Linked DNA regions of Homo sapiens. The protein of the gene in region 3 purifies or fractionates together with the protein of the main gene of each other region. This does not show direct contact. Each region holds a gene or a part of one and is shown on either strand. Other genes may lie near its edges.

What was found. Proteins that work in one complex are often made in the same cells at the same time.
Region 1: the proteins of EBNA1BP2 (region 3) and NCL purify together in Homo sapiens (affinity purification with mass spectrometry; 3 studies listed by BioGRID and IntAct, with this or other methods). This does not show direct contact.
Region 2: the proteins of EBNA1BP2 (region 3) and NOP56 purify together in Homo sapiens (affinity purification with mass spectrometry; 4 studies listed by BioGRID and IntAct, with this or other methods). This does not show direct contact.

Annotation. Positions count from the first base shown.
Region 1 is NC_000002.12:231,453,936-231,461,484, reverse strand, and holds part of NCL (nucleolin), read left to right. Parts: intron 1-618; coding exon 619-816; intron 817-920; coding exon 921-1,007; intron 1,008-1,042; exon of another isoform or gene 1,043-1,117; intron 1,118-1,191; coding exon 1,192-1,333; intron 1,334-2,359; coding exon 2,360-2,484; intron 2,485-3,095; coding exon 3,096-3,219; intron 3,220-3,684; coding exon 3,685-3,842; intron 3,843-4,360; coding exon 4,361-4,484; intron 4,485-4,720; coding exon 4,721-4,854; intron 4,855-4,961; exon of another isoform or gene 4,962-5,041; intron 5,042-5,348; coding exon 5,349-5,475; intron 5,476-5,548; exon of another isoform or gene 5,549-5,685; intron 5,686-5,860; coding exon 5,861-6,084; intron 6,085-6,217; coding exon 6,218-6,294; 3' UTR 6,295-7,549. UniProt on the Homo sapiens protein: Nucleolin is the major nucleolar protein of growing eukaryotic cells. It is found associated with intranucleolar chromatin and pre-ribosomal particles. It induces chromatin decondensation by binding to histone H1.
Region 2 is NC_000020.11:2,648,331-2,656,180, reverse strand, and holds the start of NOP56 (nucleolar protein 56), read right to left. Parts: upstream 3,550-7,850; 5' UTR 3,521-3,549; coding exon 3,518-3,520; intron 3,405-3,517; exon of another isoform or gene 3,340-3,404; coding exon 3,250-3,339; intron 2,903-3,249; coding exon 2,788-2,902; intron 1,970-2,787; exon of another isoform or gene 1,895-1,969; intron 1,768-1,894; coding exon 1,606-1,767; intron 1,433-1,605; coding exon 1,234-1,432; intron 1,115-1,233; exon of another isoform or gene 983-1,114; intron 857-982; coding exon 669-856; intron 587-668; coding exon 435-586; intron 248-434; coding exon 147-247; exon of another isoform or gene 1-146. UniProt on the Homo sapiens protein: Involved in the early to middle stages of 60S ribosomal subunit biogenesis. Required for the biogenesis of box C/D snoRNAs such U3, U8 and U14 snoRNAs. Part of the small subunit (SSU) processome, first precursor of the small eukaryotic ribosomal subunit.
Region 3 is NC_000001.11:43,168,675-43,176,607, reverse strand, and holds the start of EBNA1BP2 (probable rRNA-processing protein EBP2), read left to right. Parts: upstream 1-4,328; 5' UTR 4,329-4,466; coding exon of another isoform or gene 4,467-4,489; coding exon 4,490-4,555; intron 4,556-4,638; coding exon 4,639-4,722; intron 4,723-4,895; exon of another isoform or gene 4,896-4,956; coding exon 4,957-5,129; intron 5,130-5,728; coding exon 5,729-5,852; intron 5,853-7,579; coding exon 7,580-7,669; intron 7,670-7,933. Other genes in the region: CFAP57 (cilia- and flagella-associated protein 57), read right to left, coding at 3,698-3,854. UniProt on the Homo sapiens protein: Required for the processing of the 27S pre-rRNA.

The DNA of each region.
Region 1 (7,549 bases), on a different chromosome or scaffold from region 3:
CTGGGATCAACATATTCCTTCCACGACAACCTGGAGATGAGATTAGAATCCTTGTGGGAATTCTCTGGGTTGTTGTGGTGTGCTAGACTTAATTACCCATGAATGATTTTTGTGCCTCTTGAGAAAATTTCAATAGCACATTCTATTAGTGTTTTTTATAATGTAGGATTTTGTTTCTAAGTGATTTTTTTTTTTTTTAAATTTTTTTGAGATGGAGCTTTTGCTGTTTCCCAGGCTGGAGTGCAATGGCGCGCTATCTCGGCTCACTGCAGCCTCCATCTCCTGGGTTCAAGCAGTTCTGCCTCAGCCTCCCGAGTAGCTGGGATTACAGGTGCCCACCACCACACCCTACTAATTTTTGTATTTTTAGTAGAGACGACATTTCACCATGTTGGCCAGGCTGGTCTCGAACTTTTGACCTCAGGTGATCCACCCACCTTGGTCTCCCAAAGTGCTAGGATTACAGGCGTGAGCCACTGCGCCCGGCCCCAAGTGATCTATTCTTGCCATGACTGTTAACTAAACATGGTGACAGGATTGCATTTTCTTTACATTAGATTTGAAAACCGATGTTGGTTTTGGGAGATTGCTGCAATTTTTAGGTGACTTCTCTTTCAGACTCTGAAGAAGAAGCTATGGAGACTACACCAGCCAAAGGAAAGAAAGCTGCAAAAGTTGTTCCTGTGAAAGCCAAGAACGTGGCTGAGGATGAAGATGAAGAAGAGGATGATGAGGACGAGGATGACGACGACGACGAAGATGATGAAGATGATGATGATGAAGATGATGAGGAGGAGGAAGAAGAGGAGGAGGAAGGTACTTAAATTAGATTCTGACATACGACATGAGTTATGTTTAAAGGAGGCACTTAAGTGTTTGTGGCTACTGATGTGTGATACATTGTTTGACATCTTGTCCAGAGCCTGTCAAAGAAGCACCTGGAAAACGAAAGAAGGAAATGGCCAAACAGAAAGCAGCTCCTGAAGCCAAGAAACAGAAAGTGGAAGGTAACTTGCAGAATTAGGGGATATGGGGGAGATAAACAGCACAAATGATGAATAACAAAGGGACTTAATACTGAAACCTGATGTTACATTGTAGTGTGCTGATGTGCTGTGTATAGAAATTTTGCTTTGGAAACTAACTTTTTACCACACTACAAGTAGACTGAGTTGAGCTTTTTTTGTGCAGGCACAGAACCGACTACGGCTTTCAATCTCTTTGTTGGAAACCTAAACTTTAACAAATCTGCTCCTGAATTAAAAACTGGTATCAGCGATGTTTTTGCTAAAAATGATCTTGCTGTTGTGGATGTCAGAATTGGTATGACTAGGTAAGTGCTTCACTGCACGTTACATACACGTGGGTCTGTTAATGCTTTTCCTTCCCCTGTTAGCACAGTTACTTTAGCCTGCTACTGTTAAACATGAATACTGTAAACATCTTCAAGGATTAGCATTAGTGAACTAAGTTAGAATTAAACTGTAGATCCCCTAAGTTGCAATTTCCATAATCAGTCGTAACTTGGTATAGCACAGAATAATTTTTAGTAAGTTTTTTTGTTGTTTTTGTTATGTATTGAGACGGACGCTGGCTTTTGCTCAGGCTGGAGTACAGTGGCGCAATCTTGGCTCACTGCAACCTCTGCCTCCCGGGTTCAAGCGATTCTCCTGCCTAAGCCTCCCAAGTAGCTGGGATTACGGGTGCACTTCACCATGCCTGGCTAATTTTTGTATTTTTAGTTGAGATGGCATTTCACCATGTTGGTCAGGCTGGTTTTGAACTCCTGACCTCAAGTGATCCACCCACCTCGGCCTCTCGAAGTGCTGGGATTACAGGCGTGAGCCACCCTGCCAGTAAGTTTTAATAATTTGGTGTTAGGTGGGAGAATCGCTTGAACCTGGGAGGCAGAGGTTGCAGTGAGCCAAGTTCGCGCCACTGTACTCCAGCCTGGGCAACAGATTGAGACACCGTCTCAATTTAAAATAATGTTTATTTTCTTGGAAGTACCTGAAACTATTAGACCTGTCTAGTCATCATAGTGAATACTTTTATCCAGACAGGATTCTCCTGTATTAGTGCTTATAGGTGTTCTTTTGTCAGCTGCTACTGTGAATTCTTATAAGCAATTTAGCTCCATGATGAAGACCTCAAACGTGAATGTGCATGTCATATCTTCATGCTGAGACCTTGTTCTGTAGCTGCAGTTTGCAGAGCCTTGACTTTGTTTTGCTAATACTAGGGGTGCTTTTTAAAATGTGATCTTTGTTTGCACCATCACATTTGTCTAGAATACATATTGTGGATTTTGATTTGTGTTTTCACCTGTTGTAATTTTGCCCTCCTCTCCACCTTGAAGGAAATTTGGTTATGTGGATTTTGAATCTGCTGAAGACCTGGAGAAAGCGTTGGAACTCACTGGTTTGAAAGTCTTTGGCAATGAAATTAAACTAGAGAAACCAAAAGGAAAAGACAGTAAGAAAGGTATGTAAGGCTTTATGAGATTATGCAATGAACTCAGGAGCTAGACTGCTAGGGAAAATGCTTTGTAACCCATTTCCCTTGGTTTCCTCTTATTTTTTTAAATCATTTTTTTCCTTTGGTTTCCTCTTAATGTGGGAATTAAATGAGCTACAGTGTTTACAAGAGTACTTGGCACTGCTTGTCAGTGTTATAGTGTAAATTCCTGAGTTAGGCAAGCAAGAGCACTTTTATACAGAACAAGAATTATTAGATGCACCTAAATTAACGTAAAGGGATCTTTCTTCACTGAAACTAGATTAGGTCCCTAATTACTCCCTATATACAGTTGTAATGTTTTGAATTGGTACATTCACTTTTTTTGTTATGCGCGTCTACTCTAGGTTGAACTCCAGTGTACCTAACAGAGAGTTTGACATCAGCTGTGACAACATGGAGGGACCACTTGTGTGTTGACACTGCTATATCTCCATATTTAGCACCGAGCCTTGTACATTATAGGATCTCAAATTATTTGTTGAATAGAGCTATGTGTGTTTTTCCCCTCTTTTTGTTGTTGCCCCCCACCTTTGGTTTTTCAGGCCACAGAGCTCATTTTTGTTTTTTTAATCTAGAGCGAGATGCGAGAACACTTTTGGCTAAAAATCTCCCTTACAAAGTCACTCAGGATGAATTGAAAGAAGTGTTTGAAGATGCTGCGGAGATCAGATTAGTCAGCAAGGATGGGAAAAGTAAAGGGTATGTTCTGTCTATTGAAATGTAAGGGTTTTATTAACATTAATGCACTTTCCTGCTTTATAAAAGAAATATTGGTTTGATTTCCTTAGGCGTGTAATCTTGGACAGTTTAACCTGTAAGTTTGTGCCTCAGTAACCCATCTGTACCATGGGGATAATGTACTCATAGGGTGATTTTAAAAGACAAGCTAATACTTACAAAGAAGCAAGAAATGTGCCTATCTTACAATAAATACTTTGTAAGTAGTAGCAGTTCTTTCAGTGAGGTGAGGTTACTATGAAAAAATTCCAAGTATTTGTAAAACTAGTGGGAAGTAAGAGGGAAGCTCGAGTTTTGATTGAAAAGTGGCATAAAACTAAGGGCATTTATTGTACTCAGATCTGAAGCAAGTTCTGTGTTGCTGAGGTAAAAGCATTTGTGTTAATATGGTTTTAAAAACCATGAGTTCTTCTCCCTCCATTGCAGGATTGCTTATATTGAATTTAAGACAGAAGCTGATGCAGAGAAAACCTTTGAAGAAAAGCAGGGAACAGAGATCGATGGGCGATCTATTTCCCTGTACTATACTGGAGAGAAAGGTCAAAATCAAGACTATAGAGGTGGAAAGAATAGCACTTGGAGTGGTAAGAAATTAGGCTTGTTACAAGGTTTCAGAATTGGTGGAGGGAACTCCTTTGTGTCTTTGTATTTCATAAGTTTATAAATACTTTTTAATCAAAGTTACTCAAATGTAGGTGAAGATCAAGGACATGATACCCCAAGTCATACTCTTATTTGGAATAGTAATTTCCAATCTTGAATGAGAGCTCTAAAATCATTTTGCATTGGAATACAGTAGGCAAATCAAGCTTCCTTTGTAGGCATGTTTTATACTTTAAATGACTTGACCATGTGCGTTTTGAACTCAGATGATTCTAGGAAAACAGACCAGTCATCAGCCTATGTAAGAACAACCAGCAGGACATTGCAACACGTACTAGGTACTTAATATGTTGAGTAACAGAAATGGATTTAGCTTACGTCATGAGTATTTGTATATTAACTCAAGCACTGAAATTCTTAGGAATAAGATATTACTGTTGTGACCGAAGCTGGGAACCACTGTTTCAGAGTCTTAGGAATGTGGCATCTCTATTTGCAGGTGAATCAAAAACTCTGGTTTTAAGCAACCTCTCCTACAGTGCAACAGAAGAAACTCTTCAGGAAGTATTTGAGAAAGCAACTTTTATCAAAGTACCCCAGAACCAAAATGGCAAATCTAAAGGGTAAGATAATACCTTTGTATCATCAGTTATAGGCTATATATGTCTTAGAGGTCTAAAGGAACGTAAGGTCATGTGATCCTGTCAGAAAAGCCAAATAATTTTAGCTACGTAAATGAGTGTAAAATAAAGATCATCATTTAGGTACCAACTTGAGAGAAGGGGCTTGGCAGCATCATGTGACAGTGAAGGAGCATGTGCCTGGTAACTTACTCTAAGCATTAACTGTTCATCCTCAGGTATGCATTTATAGAGTTTGCTTCATTCGAAGACGCTAAAGAAGCTTTAAATTCCTGTAATAAAAGGGAAATTGAGGGCAGAGCAATCAGGCTGGAGTTGCAAGGACCCAGGGGATCACCTAATGCCAGAAGCCGTAAGTTCACCTGGTTAGGGTGCTGTGGTTGGGGGTAGCACTCTCGGTGCTTTGTTTATTTTTTGCACAAATTCTGTGTTTCCTGTTGCTACTGAGTGAACAATAACTGGATATGATGACTGATTACCTGAGAAATAATTGATGAAATCTCAAGAAAATTCCTCTAGATAGTCAAGTTCTGATCCAGCTGTGTCAACTCAGAGTAGCAAGTTTGCCCATGATTTCCTGCCCCATCCACTGGGCCCCACCTGCTTGGGTTGCTTCTCCCACTTTCCATAGAAGATCTGGGGCAGGATATCAACTATGCAATGGCAATTAAAAAATGTAAACCCAGAATAGCCTTTACTTTAATTAAGGACTAGTTGGCTTAGTTGCTTTTAACTGCTTTTTCACTATAACAAGTATTCTTGGCTAGTAGTCATACTAGGCATTGTGCAAATTCAGTGTTACGAACTGTGACTTCACATAAAGTCACATTTTTTTTTCCTTCCCAGAGCCATCCAAAACTCTGTTTGTCAAAGGCCTGTCTGAGGATACCACTGAAGAGACATTAAAGGAGTCATTTGACGGCTCCGTTCGGGCAAGGATAGTTACTGACCGGGAAACTGGGTCCTCCAAAGGGTAAGGGAAGGAAGCGTGAGTGCTGCTTCCACTTGAAGGGGTTTTTGTTCTGTGCAGACCTTGAGTCTAATGTGTCTTCTCATTGAGCTCCTTTCTGTCTATCAGTGGCAGTTTATGGATTCGCACGAGAAGAAGAGAGAATTCACAGAACTAGCATTATTTTACCTTCTGTCTTTACAGAGGTATATTTAGCTGTATTGTGAGACATTCTGGGGTTCAAGCTGTCACACCAGTTAGTTTTCCATAGAGAGCTACTCTGTCACTGGTATCTTTTCCCAAATAAACAAGGCTACTTTCTGTGGGATGGCTCCCCAGCATGTACAGTTAACTTGGGACATGTGTAGTAGGTGCTTTTTATAATGGGCAATTTCATTTGGTGTTCTAGGTTTGGTTTTGTAGACTTCAACAGTGAGGAGGATGCCAAAGCTGCCAAGGAGGCCATGGAAGACGGTGAAATTGATGGAAATAAAGTTACCTTGGACTGGGCCAAACCTAAGGGTGAAGGTGGCTTCGGGGGTCGTGGTGGAGGCAGAGGCGGCTTTGGAGGACGAGGTGGTGGTAGAGGAGGCCGAGGAGGATTTGGTGGCAGAGGCCGGGGAGGCTTTGGAGGTAAGGCACGCAGAGATAATGACACCACATAGCATGTGCTCTTCAGACCCTGTGCCCTGTCACGGTTCCTAATCACTGGGGAGGAGGAGCTTTGTACCCATTCTTTTAACAGTGTCTTGCCTTCCTCCTGTAGGGCGAGGAGGCTTCCGAGGAGGCAGAGGAGGAGGAGGTGACCACAAGCCACAAGGAAAGAAGACGAAGTTTGAATAGCTTCTGTCCCTCTGCTTTCCCTTTTCCATTTGAAAGAAAGGACTCTGGGGTTTTTACTGTTACCTGATCAATGACAGAGCCTTCTGAGGACATTCCAAGACAGTATACAGTCCTGTGGTCTCCTTGGAAATCCGTCTAGTTAACATTTCAAGGGCAATACCGTGTTGGTTTTGACTGGATATTCATATAAACTTTTTAAAGAGTTGAGTGATAGAGCTAACCCTTATCTGTAAGTTTTGAATTTATATTGTTTCATCCCATGTACAAAACCATTTTTTCCTACAAATAGTTTGGGTTTTGTTGTTGTTTCTTTTTTTTGTTTTGTTTTTGTTTTTTTTTTTTTTGCGTTCGTGGGGTTGTAAAAGAAAAGAAAGCAGAATGTTTTATCATGGTTTTTGCTTCAGCGGCTTTAGGACAAATTAAAAGTCAACTCTGGTGCCAGACGTGTTACTTCCTAAAGAGTGTTTCCCCTGGAATGTCACTGGAGAGCATGGCAAAGCCAGCTCTGCCACTTGCTTCACCCATCCCAATGGAAATGGCTTAGTGCGTGTTTCCAGTATCCCAGCCCTAACTAACTTGGTTGAAATGCTGGTGAGGGGACCTGCTCCTGCAGCCCTGGTGCTGACTTGAAGGCTGCTGCAGCTTCTCCTACTTTTAGCAGGTCTGAGGATTATGTCCTGAAGACCACTCTGGAAAGAGGTGCAGGAACAGATTAGTCAGGTTTCCTAGGACAAGGAAGAGCTTCAGGGAAGAGCAGTGGCTAACTCCTGTAATCCCAACACTTGGGGAGGCCGAGGCAGGCAGATCAACTGAGGTCAGGAGTTGAAGACCAGCCTGGCCAACATGGTGAAAGCCCATCTCTACTAAAAATACAAAAATTAGCTGGGCATGGTGGTGTACTCCTGTAGTCCCAGCTACTCAGGAGGCTGAAGCGGGAGAGTCACGTGAACCCGGGAAGCAGAGTGAGCTGAGCACACACTACTATACTCCAGGCTGGGTAACAAAGCGAGACTCCCATCTCCCAAAAAGCAGTTCTGGAATAGAACTCACGCTAGATGGATAGACCAGTGGACACTTTGGAACCTTGGGGCTGGGGAGGAAACTGCCCATCCAGTAAACCCCCAAAAAGCCATTTGTTCTGCACTACGTATATTGCTTATTCTTTCTGGTCTTAAGTACTTGCCTCTCAACCTCCCTTTTTAGTAAAAGACAAGGCCACGTGAGAGGCGGGACTATCAACATTGTGATGAATTTA
Region 2 (7,850 bases), on a different chromosome or scaffold from region 3:
TCACTCAGACACCAGGACTGGCCATCACCCCCATAGCAGAGGCCTGTATAGGTCAGGGAGCCCTGGTCAGCCATCACCGTGATCCCCCAACAAGCAGTGGGCACCAGAAGTGGCACCTGATTGTGGGCAGGTGCCCTCACTGGTACCTGAACAGGGCCTTTTCAGCCCCAAGGATCTGCACTGTGGATGCTGGATACTTGGCCAGGTTGGTGAGGCTGCCAGCATGTGCGATGAGACGTGCACCTACCTGGAGAGAGAGTCAAGGAAGCAGTCAGAGAAATGAACTGCTGACCTGCCCAGTTGCACGACAGCCCTGCTCCCCACCTCCCCATCAAGCACAACTAGGGAAGACATGGTGGGTCACGAAATACAGCAGTGCAGGTGCACATGGCAACAGTCCTTATTCTCCCATTTTTGAGTCCCCTGTGACGCACCGCTTCCCCAATTAGGGCTGACAGGCTGGGGGCTACTTGGCTCATCTTGGAGCGCAGGTAAGTGTGTAGGCTCTGGCGGTATTCAGATAAAGACACCACACGACTGGAGAAGCTCTCGATGTTTATCAAGTCAATGGCAGATATGTCCATGCCTAGGAAAAACCAAGTGTGAATGCAAGAGGCCAGCTATTTAGAGCCCCATACCTTATGCAGGTTGCCAGGCTCTGCACTGACCCATGGAGGACCGTGAGGCATCCAGAATAGCCTTAGCCTTGGCCCCATCCATTGTCAGCTCCTCCAGCTTCTCCAGCTTGTCCTCATTCAGTTCCCTTCGGTTTCCAATAAACTGGGCAAGACGGCAGTATGTGGCATTGTCGTTGATGATCTTCACCAGCTCCGGAAAGTGATACCCGTACCACTCCCTGCAAAGAGCCACAGTCACTCCCTGGCCCAGCTGCTTCATCAAAAACCATAGAGCTACAGCCTTGCCTTCTCCACACCTACTCTGCCTGGAGGAAATGGGACAAAGATCCAAATCTTCCTCAATTCTATGTTCCCCCATTCACAATACAGACCAGGCACAGGGCCTGAGCTGAGGTGTATATGGGGTAGGTTTACTCTACCTCCTCTTTCTATACAGTCAGTGTAAGAACACAGCCTGTGGTAAGCACCAGGAGGCCTACACCCAGCCCCAGCCCACATGGTTCTACCCACAGGATGGTCAGTCCTCATCAAGACTCAAAATTAACTGAACTACAGACCAAAGGCTCCAGTATTATGGGTGGCCCCTGCACTTTACCTGACACGCATAGAGAAGGTATTGATGTCCTTATCCAGCTGGTCCAGGAGGCTAATGGACTGGATGATCATATTGTCCACCCGGTTCACATTAAACTTAACTTTGGCACGGGAATAGCTGTGTCCCAGCCCCAGCTGTGCTTTACAAGCTGACAGATCGGTCAGACCCTTCACCAGATTGTGGAAGTGCAGACGAACTCCTAAGAAGAGGGCAAGACGGTGAGCAACAAGGGGCTCTGAGCTAGCTCCCGCACCCACGGGCACCAGCCCAGCCTGAAGGCCTTCCCAGAAATCACAACAAGCAACCAAGTTTCCAGAACCTCCTCCCCCAAAATGTCCAGGATAACAGGAATATAACAGATGATGGTCTCACCTCGCAGGATCTCAGCTATGACTCCTCCAGTCTGGCAGTTGTACCCTAACTCCTCCTGTATTGCGGCACCAATCTTGGGATCCCCAACTCCCAAGAGTACTTTCTTCTTTTTGGACGGCAGGTGGGTCTCCAAGAGCAGGCGGAGGTCCTCATGAACAACCCCTCAGGGGAAAGAACACAGTTCCCACTAACAGGCTGAAGGACGATCAACTCTAACATCCCTCAGCTGACTACCCTGGTCCCACCGAGCACGCTGGGATGGCATACCTAGATCCCTCCCCATCAGGCATTGCTCAGAGACATGGAGACATCAGTGATTGCACTCAGGGGATTGACAGATTTGATTCGCAAGTCATCACTGCAAAGCCTGGCCCAGCCATGGGAACAACTGCATTCAGGTCTGATAGCACAAGTGGGCAATAAATAATAGCTTGTAACACACCCTCGAGTATTTCGTAGAATTTGCCTTCTGGAACCAAACCTTTTTTTCTCAGCCTGTGTTTACCCAACTGCCCTTTCCAATCGAACAGAAAGCAGAGAACCAGACACTTGATTGTGTTTAGGCAAAACCTCAGGCACAAGTAGGTGTTAAGCCGACCCCCTTTAAGAAACCCCCCTTTGTCGGCCGGGCACCGTCGCTCGCGCCTGCAACCTCAGCACCTTGGGAGGTCGAGGCGGGCGGATCACGAGGTCAGGAGATGGAGACTAGCCTGGCCAACATGGTGAAACCCCGTCTCTACCAAAAATACAAAATTAGCCGGGTGTGGTGGCTGGCACAGGCCTGTAATCCCAGTTACTCGGGAGGCTGAGGCAGGAGAATCGCCTGAACCAGGGAGGCAGAGGTTGCAGTGAGCCCAGATCTTGCCACTGCACTCCAGCCTGGGGGACAGACTCCATCTCAAAAAAAATAAAAATAAAAAATAGTTTGTCACTACAGTGCCCACAAGGAAACGTTAACACACATTCCACATCGTCTGCTTAAACAGTTTGGTCTAGCACAGTTCCCAGACCTTGAGCTCTGTGAAGACAATTATTTCAAATTACACATTGTATGGCTCAAATACTGCCTCACGCCTATCAGACTCAGAGCCAGCCAAGGACGGCAAATACTATCACAAGCTGCCCGAGAGGATACCGAAAGGAACCACATCTCTCTGTGACACTTGGCGGTGGCCGACTTACCTTCAGACACGGCGTTGGCATTTTCCAAGGCAACCTGGGATGAGGCAAAGGGACAAAAGGCCACCAGACGAACGATGCTGTGGAATTTGCCCAGGTTGAGCACAGACTCCTCCACCTGGGGGGAGAAAGAGGCTAAGTGGTTTCCTTCCCTCCCTCCTGCCTCTGCGGCGCAGTCAAGCAGCGGTTCTCAGCCTTGGAAGCTCTTAAAATATGCTGATACCTGGGCCCCACATCCCAGCTTCTGCTTTAATCGTTCGGGGGCGGCGTCCGGGAGGCTTATTTCTAATTGCTAGAGCGATTCTACCCATGGGTCAAGGTAAAGACCCCCGGATCTAGAGCTTTCCAGGCCCGTCCCCCCGCCCCGAACCGCTCGGCCGGCCACGTGGGAGCGCGCTGTGCATGCTGGGACCCGCGCGATGAGGGTCTGCGGGGCCGCCAAAGGAGCCCACGGATCTCACCCACCTGCGGCTGCAGCAGACTGATCTCCTCCACTTCCTTCAGCGCCAGCAGCGCGTAGCCGACCGCGTGCTCAAACAGCACGTGCAACAGCACCTGGAACGGGAGCCGGGGCGCGAGCGTCAACGCAACCTCAGCGTCTGCCGGAACCCGTTCCCAGGGCAGGCGCAGGCGCAGGCGCAGGCCCAGGCCCAGGCCCAGGCCCTGTCTGCGGCCCGAACGCAGGCCGAAACCCCCACCGTCGCGTCGCCCGCGCCCCGCAACCACTCCTCACCATGGCGCCAGCTCCCGGGTTCGGCTCGCAATGCGGCTAGCGCGCTCCGGCGCGCGGAACCAGGCTCCAGAGGCCACGCCCCCGCCCCCCCGACCAATCGGAGGCCGGGGACGACACCATCTCCGGCCTTTGGAGGGGCCGCCCAGGGTGGTATCGCCCGGAGCGCGGGCTGGGTGGTGCCGAGCGCGGGCGAGCGGGCCTTTTCCGGCCTCTGCAGCTGCGCGGGCGGGCGTGGTTGCCGGGGACGCGCGGCCCCCGGTCGGGCACTGCAGGCGGCGAAACGACTTGGGAAGGCCCTTTCGGGGTAATAGTCCGGTTCCTGATGTTCTTGTCATATGAGTTACGGGCAGCAGAGCTGGGTGAAGTCGGGGCGGGAGGTCCGCGTGGGGCGCGGCGTCCATCCCAGACAGAGACCGCTGCCTAGCCGGCTTCCCGCTTCGTCCGTGGCCTCGGGCCCCAGACCCTGCGCCCCACGTCCCCGGGACCCAGGCGTTCCCGTCCCCTACTCGGGGACGAGCCTCCCCGGCGCCGGGTGGGCGGTGCATCCTTTCCTCCCACCCGTAACGGGAGCGGTGCCTGGCGCGCTCTGGCGCAGACCCTGCTGGGAATGTAGCTCGCGCAGTTTTCTTCGTACTATTAATTTATTTCTTTTTTTTGTTTTTGGTTTTTTTTTTTTAAATGACTGTAGCAGGCAGTAACGTGCGAAAGAAAGACGCTCCAGCGTCTTCCTAGGCCAGTTTCTTGTTGCTGTGCTGCACGGGACCCAGCTCCTTTTGCTGGGCCACGTGTTGCTCCTCCGCTTGGGCGGCCCTGAATTCTGGGCGCTGGTGATCGCTGAGTGAATCGCAGCTGCTTCCCTGTCCTTGAGGGCGTCTTTTGGGCACTCAGGCGACTCTTTAGAAATGAGTTTTGCTTTAATAATTAATATTAACGTTATAAATCCAAAACCTAGTTATACTTAAGTAGCGTATCCCCTGGTATGTTTTAAAGAGTCATTCGAAGGGGATTTTTAAAAATAATGTATAGCTATAAACTGCATTTATACATTTAATTGTTATTTTGTTAAGCGATTGAGTTACTTGACAAAATCCAAGTACATAGTTCACTCACAAATCTAATATGTCAAACCTAAATGTGGTTGGTAAATCTTACTCTCATAATTTCAATATGGTTTACAGATGTGGTTGAATTCTGTTACACATGTCTACTTACGAGTCAGAATCGTTATTCCATTTAATATTTTAAAATGGAATTGCCAAGTTAATCCATACATTAGCATGTTAAATTATTTTAACCGTCGTGAATACATCAAAATAGACGATTCCAAAATGTAATGGAAAATACTAATGCTAATACTTCAATTTACTTCATTATTTCTGCCCTTAATCCTGAATCTTCCTGGAGTTACAGGTGCTTATCCACTAAACCAGGGGTTTTCAAGCAAGAAGTCAGAATGCATTAATGGACAGCATTTAAAAAAATAGGATTGGGTGGGCTATAATCCAGCACTTTAGGAGGCCGAGGCAGGCGGATCACTTAAGATCAGGAGTTCGAGACCAGCCTGGCCAACATGGTGAAACCCCGTCTCTACCAAAAAATAAAAAAATTAGCTGGACGTGGTGGAGCATGTCTGTAATCCCAGCTACTCGGGAGGCTGAGGAAGGAGAATCGCTTGAACCCGGGAGGCAGAGGCTGCACTCTAGCCTGGGCAACAGAGCAAGGCTCTGTCAAAAAAAAAAAAAAAAAAAAAAAAAAGAAAAAGGATTAAAGCGAATAGAAATAAGAGTGTGTTGCTTAGAGTAAGGTGCTGTTCATTGTAAAACTTTTGTCTCAGCTCTACATACATATATAGAAATATGTACACAAATATTTTTCATATATACATATATATGTAACTATATGAACACACTTTTGTGTGTTAAATCAGAATATAAAAAACCTGAGGGTCAATCAATGAGCCAAAAGGTAACCAGTCGTACTCTGGAAAAATTTGGGTCCTCTGGTTACAAAGGAGCTGTCATGAAGTAGTTTGCTGACTTACAGAGATGGCTGAAGAAAAGTGCTTCTGCTGGTGAGATAACCAATGCTTGTGATCAGATATGGATGTGGTATGAACATTAAAAGGTTTCCTTCGGTTTTCTCATCTCCATCCCTTCAATAAAATATCTCACCCTGATACTTGTAGTCTGACTCTAGTGGGATAACACAGGACTCCTGTTATCCTTGACACTGTTATCCAGTTATCCAGGGGGCATCTCTGCAACCTGTGGTGGAGTAGACCATCTTTGCCTTCCGCTTGGACTGTTTGCTGGGTGCACTGCTCCTGTCTAGGCTCAGGTCTTCACCACCAAAGTAGACTTTTTACAAAACCTTTGGTTTCCCCTTCAAGGCACTTTCTACTGCCAGAATGATCTTTCTAAGGCAGAATATCCAACCAGGTGCAATTTGTGGGTGCTTACAGGGTCATGAAATACCACCTATGGTAGTTAGTTTCCACAAATGGCCAAGATAGACGTGTGGGTGAAGCCATCCTGTGTGTCCCAGCCCCTGTCACCATCTCAGTGCAGCCATGTAAGGCCCCAAACAAGACCAGCAGAACCACCATCTGCATCTTGTCTACCCTGATTGTGACAAATAGTACATTGCGGTTTTCAGCCACTAAATGTAAGGGTGAGTTGTTAAGCAGCAGTAAATTTGAATCGGTCAGCTCACGTGGGTTCAAGCCCCAGCTCTGCCAGTACTTACAATGTGATCTTAATCACTGAATCTTCCTGAGCTTTCATTTCCTTTGCAGAATGAAGGTTGGGGTTTCATTCATCCCTTTAACAAACATTTATTGAAGATCTCCTGTGGGCCAGGTGTGACAATGGTGTACCTGGCATGTAGTGGGAGCTCAAAAAATATTAGTGGTCTTTCATCTTGCTCTTTTGTCCTTTAATTAATAAATAGCACAACAAAATGTTTTATCACCTATTTTCAGTTGAGTCTCAGTTCTCTGCAGTTATCACCTTGCATAGAAGCTACTGAAACCTCATTTTTTTCTTTTTTGGGACAGGGTCTCCTGTAGCCCAGGTTGGAATGCAGTGGCACAATCTTTGCTCATTGCAACCTTGATTTCCTGGGCTCAAGTGATCATCCTGCCTCAGCCTCCCAAGTAGCTGGGACTACTGGTGTACACCCCCATGCCTGACTAATTTTTTTGTAGAGATAGGGTTTTGCCATGTTGCCCAGGCTGATCTCAAACTCCTGGGCTTGAGCTATCCTGCTCTCCTCTGCCTCCCCAAATGCTGGGATTACAGGTGTGTGCCACCACACCCAGCTAATTTTTGTATTATTGGTAGAGACGGGGTTTTACCATGTTGGCCAGGCTGGTCTCGAACTCCTGACCTCAGGTGATCCACCTGCCTCGGTCTCTCAAAGTATCGGGATTACAGGTGTGAGCCACTGTGCCTGGCCAGGATCTTATTTTTTATGGCTGAATAGTACTCCATTGTGTATACATACCACGTTTTCTTTTCTTTTTTTTTTTGAGATGGAGTCTCGCTCTGTTGCCCAGGCTGGAGTGCAGTGGCGTGATCTCGGCTCACTGCAAGCTCCACTTCCTGGTTCAGCCTTCTGAGTAGCTGGGATTACAGGCGTCTGGCACCACACCTGGCTAATTTTTGTATTTTTATTTTATTTTATTTTATTTTATTATTATTATTATTATTATTATTATTATTATTATTATTATTTGAGACGGAGTCTCGCCCTGTCGCCCAGGCTGGAGTGCAGTGGCGCAATCTTGGCTCACTGCAAGCTCCGCCTCCCAGGTTCACGCCATTCTCCTGCCTCAGCCTCCCGAGTAGCTGAGACTACAGGCGACCGCCACCGCATCCGGCTAATTTTTTGTATTTTTAGTAGAGATGGGGTTTCTCCGTGTTAGCCAGGATGGTCTCAATCTCCTGACCTTGTGATCCGCCCGCCTTGGCCTCCCTAAGTGTTGGGATTACAGGCGTGAGCCACCACGTCTGGCTAATTTTTGCATTTTTAGTAGAGAGAGGTTTCACCATGTTGGCCAGGCTGGTCTCAAACTCCTGACCTTGTGATCTGCCTGCCTCAGCCTCCCAAAGTGTGAGCCAGCGCTCCCTGCTGATTTTTGTATTTTTAGTAGAGACGGGGTTTACCATGTTGGCCAACCTGGTCTCAAACTCCTGACCTCAGGTGATCTGCCTGCCGCGGCCTCCTAAAGTGATGGGATTACAGGCATGAGCCACCATGCCTGGCCTGTATATCTTATTTTGAGAAATGTCTATTCAGATCTTTTGCCTATTTTTAAATTGGATTATTATGT
Region 3 (7,933 bases):
TTTGTGCCTGGAACACAGGGGGTACTTAATACATTTTTGTTGAGTGAACAAATGAATATGTTGAGCCTCATCATGACTCTGAGCTGAACAAGCTGAGCATCATCTGCATCTTACAGATGAGGAGACTGAGGCTCTGTGAGCCTATAAAATGGGGAGCCAGATCAAAGCCAGGTCTCCCAATGTCATGACCTTTATATTTTTCCCTTCACCGGTAATACCCTTAGACTTGGTCAGTGGAGATCCTCCCTTGGGCCTCAAATTTTAGAGCATCCCGGAGTCTTTCTCTGGCTGTACCCCTTACCATTAAGTGGGATACAGTGGCTGCCTGGAGTTTGTCCTGCCTCTTCTAGATCACGTTGCAGGTACCCAGGACTCTGGAGTTCCCTGCTCAGATAGTCTTGAGCCTGCTGACAAGACCAACATTGGGGGTTTCTTCCCAGGCTGTCTCTACTCAACCTGGGCCTGAAGGATGGGCACAGGGTGGTTGCTTATAGAATATATGGGTAGAATTTGAACATATGGGCTGCAAGGATCCACCCACATGTGTACAAGGCCCCTGGTGATATAAGATGGAGTTAGGAGCAGAAGAGAAGTGATACAGTAAGAAGTGTAAGAATATGAGCACAATAACTGAAAGTAAAATCTCAATGGATACATTAAACATTAAGTTAGATGCAGCAGAAAAGAGAAGCAATGAACTACGAGATACATCTAAAGTAATTATCTAGAATGCAACACAGAGAGAGTAAGGTATAAAAAATCCAAATAAGAGTTCAAAAAAAAAAAAACCCAAAAACATGAACGTCAGGTGTGGTGGCTTGCACCTGTAATCCCAGCTACTTGGGAGGCTGAGGTGGGAGGATGAGTTGAGTTCAGGAGTTCAAGACCAGCCTCAGCAACATAGCCAGACCCCATCTCCATAAAAACAATTAGCTGGTCAAGGTGGTGCATGCCTGTATTCCCAGCTATTCAGGAGGTTAAGGTGGGGAGGATGGCTTGAGCCCAGGAGTTTGAGACTGCTGTGAGCTATGATTGTGCCAGTGCACTCCAGCCTGGGCAACAGAGTGAGACCTGGTTTCTTAAAAAATAAATAAATAAAATAAAATAAAATAAAAAACTGGAAGGATGGAGTTGAGATGGTTTGGAGTTCCAGAAGGAGATAACAGAACAAAAAAGATACCTGTCCTTAGATCCAGGAATCTCAAATAATCCCTAGGAGGATAAAAAATGAAAATAAAAACTATACTGATGTGTGTGTCTGTATCTATATGTATGTATATATACTATGTATATATACATGTACATATAGTATATGGTGTGTGTATATATGGTGTGTATTTTATACGTATATATGTATATGGTGTATGTGTATAGATACATACACACACACACCATAGACAGAGAAGATATTAAACATCCAGAAAAAAAGATCATCTACAGAAAGACGATGCTGATAGCTAATTTCTTAACCACAGCAACAAAAGAGAAGCCAAAAAAACACAATGGAATATGATCTATAATATGCTGATAAAAATTTCACACCTGTTGAAACTATCTTTCAGAAATGAGGATAAAATAAAGTCATTTTCAGACAAAAACTGGGAGAATTTATTAATACATTATCAGTAAATGCAGAAGGAAAATGATCCCAGCTGGAATATCTGATTTGTAAAGAGTAATGGTGGGAAAAAGTTTGGTAAGTATGAGAGCAAATATAAATTAATGTTGTCTGTAGAAAACCATAATTTAATTTATATTGGAAAGTCATATGATCTTTTTTATTTTTGTTTTTGAGACAGGGTCTGGCTTGGTTTCCCAGGCTGGAGTGCAGTGGTGCGATCTTGGCTCACCACAACCTCTGCCTCCCGGGTTCAAGCAATTCTCCTGCTTCAGCCTCCCGAGTAGCTGGGACTACAGGCACGTGCCACCACGCCCAGCTGATTTTTGTATTTTTAGTAGAGACGGGGTTTCACTATGTTGGCGAGGATGGTCTTGATCTCTTGACCTCGTGATCTGCCCACCTTGGCCTCCCAAAGTGCTGGAATTACAGGCATGAGCCACCACACCTGGCCAGATGTCCATTTTTATTGCCCCTAATCAACACTGTCTGGAGGTGCTTACCAGCACAGGTAACACAAGAAAAAGGAAGAAAGTCATCGTTATTTGTAGATAACATGATAGTCTATGTAGAAGTCTCTGCATAATCTATAGACAAATCATTAGAATTAATAATAATTTAGCAAATATGCTGGAAATAAACATCAATAAATTAAAGTCAACTGTATTTAATACAGCTTATTCCAACAGAATATTATGTGGTTGATAAATTTGACTTTATTAAAACTAATAATTTTTGTCCATCAAAAGATACTTGTAAGATGGGAGAAAAATGCCCCAAACTGAAAGAAATTATTTGCAAGACATATATATATATCTGACAAATTATTGATATACAGAATATATAAATTGTGCATGTAAATCAATAAAATTGCCCAAAAATATCCTGCACAACAAACTGTAAAAAACAAGTAAAAGACTTGAACAAGGCATTTAACATACGACTAAATAGGAATAGCCCATAAACAGATACTCATCATCATTAATGATAGCAAAATGCAAACGAAAACCACAATTCCTTTTCTCAACCATTGGGTTAGCAAAAAATTACGAAGTTGGACAATACCAAGGGTTGGCAGGGTTGCTGAGGAATAAGAACTCTTATGCACTTCTAGTGGGAGTGTAAATTGGTACTATCATATTGCTCAGTAATTTTAGTCCTGGCTGTGTGCCCTAGAGAATCTGCACAAATAGATGAATGTATATGCATGCAAGAATGTTTATAGTAGTATAGTTTGTAATAGCAAATGATTGTTATTTCCCAAATGTCCCTCAATATTAGAGTGAATACATATATTTGAGACATTATATTCATATGATGGAACACTACATAGCAATAAAATGAACTTGGCTATATGTATCGAGATGTGTGAATCTCAAAAGCATGACATTGAACTGATGCAGCAAGACACAGAATACAGGGAGAAGCACTAGAACTGGTAATATTCTGTTTCCTATGCTGGGTGGCTGGGTTCACAGATCTACATTCTATTGTAATTCTTTAAATATGACATATATGTAGGGTACATTCTTTTGTATGTATATGTCACAATAAAAGGTGTCAATGCAACAAAGAATGGGAAAATGGATTCGGTTGTTGAAATAATGAATATCATTAACAGGACCACTGTGAACAAAAATAAGGGCTGTAATGCTATACAAATGGTTATTTGCGACTTGGGATAAAGTTTACAGTGTCTTCATCATACTTGGATTCAAACGGTGATATAATGAAGGTGGTGTGCTCAGGAAAACTGTTAGACAACTCAAAAAGTGGCTCTGGTGATGACAAAGGCAGTGATATTGAAGACACCAAAAGAGGGGTTCTTAACATATTTTCATGAAATTACAGTGAAAAAAGTACTTTTAAATTAACATTTTATATGTGATTTTAACTACATATGCGTGACTGATTAATCTAGTTTCATAATACAAGTCGCCATTTATTTCCTCTACATTTATAATACTGCATATATATTCAAATTGGCCAAAATCTTTCTTTCCAATCATCATGCTGGGATTATGGGGTTATATGTGGCACATACCATTCCTGTATATGTCAGGATGGAAAAAGTTTTACCTGGAATGAATTTTTGCCATTTCTGATCCACATTGTACTTCACACAGTGATTTCCTGAAGGAAATATAATGATCTGTTCATCGAAGTAGAAGATATTGTTGGCCACGTGGGATCGAAGACCAAAAACATGCAGCGTCTGAGCTACCACGGCTGACATGATCTCCCGCCAAACAGTTCTGCTGAAGACCAAGGCAGCGCTTCAGAGTGGAGAGCACCGCCCCGCTCCGACCCCGCCCCCGGCCCGGACTCGCCCTCCCCGCCCTTTGCTCCTCCCCTTGTCTCTCCCCTTTCTCCTCCCCTTGTCCCTCCCCTTTCCCCTCCCCTTGTCCCTCCCCTTTCCCCTCCCCCGGGGTCCTCCTCCGCGCCACCCCACCCCCGCGGCTCCTTTTTCTGCCTTTTCCTTTGTACCCTCACTGCTACCAGCTCCTTCTGGCGACCCCCAGGTACCCCCTCCCACCTTTCGTTTCTCTCTGGGTCAGCAGACCACGCATGTATCCAGAGGCGCTACCTGTAGGGATCCTAAGCAACCCGGACACTTTCAAACGCCGTAGCGGTTCCTATAGCAACGACAAACCGGAAGTATGGTTTGCCGCCGGAAGCGGAAGTCCCAATCAAAAGTTGAGCAGTAGCTGTGAGTTGCTGGCGCTGGAGCGATTCGGTGGCACGTGGAGCCACGGCGTGGGAGTAGGGGGCTGAAGGCAGGCAGCAGCGGCCAGGGCCGCCCTCTGCTAGCCGCTTGGGTCTCGGGATACCCCGTTTCTTCCTGTAGGTGTGGGACGTGCGTGCGGCGAGATGGACACTCCCCCGCTCTCGGATTCGGAGTCGGAATCCGATGAATCCCTTGTCACAGACAGAGAGGTAGGTGTCAGCCGAGCTCGTGGGGCTGGGCGTGGGAGAGGGGGCCTTACACCCCTGGGAGTGACCGTGATTGTGTCCTGCAGTTGCAGGATGCGTTTTCCCGAGGGCTTCTGAAGCCAGGCCTCAATGTCGTGCTAGAGGGGCCGAAGAAGGCCGTGAACGACGTGGTGAGCGTGGGCACAGGGTCGGGGGTACTCGGACATGGGATGCGCTTCAGGCGCTGTTGGGCTTGGGAGACCGATTCTTGTCCCAGGAAAGATGCACCCTGCGCCTCGCCAAGAGGGTCAATTACCTGTCTGGGTATTGGGGATTAGCACTTTGTCCCTTCGCCTAACAGCCTGTGCTTGGGAAAGACAAACTCAGAGTTCCCTTCTTGTGAGCTCAGTGTCTGGATTTCCTAGAATGGCCTGAAGCAATGTTTGGCAGAATTCAAGCGGGATCTGGAATGGGTTGAAAGGCTCGATGTGACACTGGGTCCGGTACCGGAGATCGGTGGATCTGAGGCGCCAGCACCTCAGAACAAGGACCAGAAAGCTGTTGATCCAGAAGACGACTTCCAGCGAGAGATGAGTTTGTATGTTTGTTTTCAAATGTTGGAGAAGTTGAGGATCCTTGTGCAGGAGAGTGGGAAAGAGGGGAAATTAGTAAGTCTGCACTCAGAATAAGCCTAGGAGTAGAGAGAGCGGCTTCTTTTGACTAAGAATAGCTAGGAGATTCTTCCTGTTTGAGAGAAGAGCTCTTTGGTCCACGGTCACGATCCAAAATCCACTTTATGGGCTAATTTGAAATATTCATGTTAAAACTTTTTGTGCATGCTTCAGTTATTAGGAAAACAAACAAACAAACATTGCTTATGGGATGTTCTTGTGTGGAATTGCTTTAGTAATTACATAAGAATCCATAATCGACATTCGTTTGTGTTAATGGGTACCTTTAGAGTAGTCATTCTCTTAAACTATTTTTAGCAACACCCCTCCCCTTTTTAAAAACTAGTATACGGCTACATTTCTTTTAGATACTAAATCAGTGAGACAGTTTTTGTTTGTTTGTTCTTGCTAATGGAGGTCAGATTTTGAGAGTCCTTCTGAGCTTGGATAACTCATGATTGGCGGTGAAAAGGAACGTAAGGCCTCCTCCTTCACCTCATTACACATTTTGTCCTACGATTCTCAGCTATCGCCAAGCCCAGGCCGCAGTGCTTGCAGTCTTACCCCGCCTCCATCAGCTCAAAGTCCCTACGAAGCGACCCACTGATTATTTTGCGGAAATGGCCAAATCTGATCTGCAGATGCAGAAGGTAAGAAATAGAAGTTTTCCTCTGGAAAGTCAAAACTTTGTACTTAAGCATATTCAGCTGGCTTAGAAAGATAGCTATGAGCCCAATAACGGGGAGCCAGTTGTCAGAGGACAATTATTACCTCTTCCATAGATTGGCTACTTCAGAGTCATGCCAGTTACCACCAATTAGATGCATATAAAAATGACATTTTTTCTAAAATCAGCAATTAAGGAGAGGAACAGTGCTGTGTGAAGTGTGGTCCCCGAGGTGAAGATGGCCCAGTGCATTTCCTAGCTGGCATGGTCATGACATGGTGTGCAGAGAGGACAGCATTCTTGTGCCCTTGCCACTGTCAGTGCTAGAACTTGTAGACAATTACTTTTCTCTGGGCCTCAGTTTTCTCCTCTGTAAAATGAGGGATTCTTAGATGGTTCAGATATAGTACAATTTAGAGTTGGGTAGAACTTGGACCTCATTTAACTTTGGAAGAAGGGATTGCCAGCATGTAATCCAACATACATTCAGCCCTCCATAGCCATGGGTTCAGCATCTGTGGATTCAACCAACCTTGGATCAAAAATATTGGGGAAAAAAATTTGAAAATATTGCAAAAGGAAAACTGAATTTTCCGTGTGCCGAGAACTACATTGAATCCATGAGAATGAGGTGATGCATAGCATTGTATTCGGTATTATAAGTAATCTAGAGACTATTTAAAGAAGCGGTCTGGCACTAGAGACTAGTTTCGTGGATGACAATTTTTTCATGAACTTGGGGAGGGGATAGTTTTGGGATGAAACCGTTCCATCTCAGATCATCAGGCATTAGATTCTCATAAGGAGCAGGCAACCTAGATCCTTTGCATGCATAGTTCCATGCATAGTTCACAGTAGAGTTCGCACTCCTATGAGAATTTAACGCCACCACCAATCTGACAGGAGGTGGAGCTCAGGTGGTAATGCTTGCTTGCCTGTCACTCACTTTCTGCTGTGCGGCCTGGTTCCTAACAGGCCACAGATTCATAGTGGGTTCGTAGCGGTCTGTGGCCTGGGAGTTGAGGTCCTCTGACTTTAAAGGATACTGGAGGCGAGTGTAGGTTATATGCAAATGCTGCACCATTTTTATATAAAGGACTTGAGCATCTGTGGATTTTGATATCTGTAGTGGGTCCTAGAACTAATCCTCTATGGATACTGAGGGATAAGTATATTTAAATAGTACCCTGGGGTCTCAAGCTGGATTTTAGGGAGCTTTTGTCGTGGTAGTAGTTCACCTTCTTACTGTGAACTCTGTACAAATTCTCACTGACAACTTCTCATCCTTTAACTAAAATGTGTATGTTTGACTGAAAAGGCTAGGCACCTGGTATCTGCCTGGGTTTTTATTGTGTATGTGGTATACTAGAAAAGGACACTGAGGCCGCATACTGGTTTCCAGCCTCAGTCTACTGACAGTAGAAATGGGGAGAAGTTTGTCTTCTTTCCTGGGCTACAAATAGGCAGTTTGTATAATGAAACAGACAGCACACTGGGAGCGGGAAGGTGACTTTCAATCTCTGGCTTCACTCTGGCACTTTTGGTAAAGTGCTCAGCCTGTGGGCCCCATTGTCCTCAGGGGTTGGAACTGATGATTTATAAGTTCCGCAGTTTAAAGAACAGGGAATATCTGTTCCCTGCTCTAGCGAATCCTAAGTAGTGGTCATTCCAGATTCAAATGACATGAACTGACAGCATTTTGTGTTGTAGATTCGACAGAAGCTGCAGACTAAACAGGCTGCCATGGAGAGGTCTGAAAAAGCTAAGCAACTGCGAGCACTTAGGAAATACGGGAAGAAGGTGAGAAGAAAAGTGTGCAGGGAACAGGAAGAGGCGGAGTGTGTGTTAGATGAGATTGCCGTGGTCTGACTTGGTCCCCTGAACTGAACGGAACTGTGTGTTGATCATGTATTTACCGTCTCTCAGTGTATGTGCTGGTATTCATGAGCACAATCTTGCCTGGACATGAGTGGTTCCCCAGGAGTAGTATGGTGACTGCAGGTGAGCCAATCACCTCTCTGGGCGTTAGTTTTCACATCTGTACACTGGGTCCAGATGAGTGGT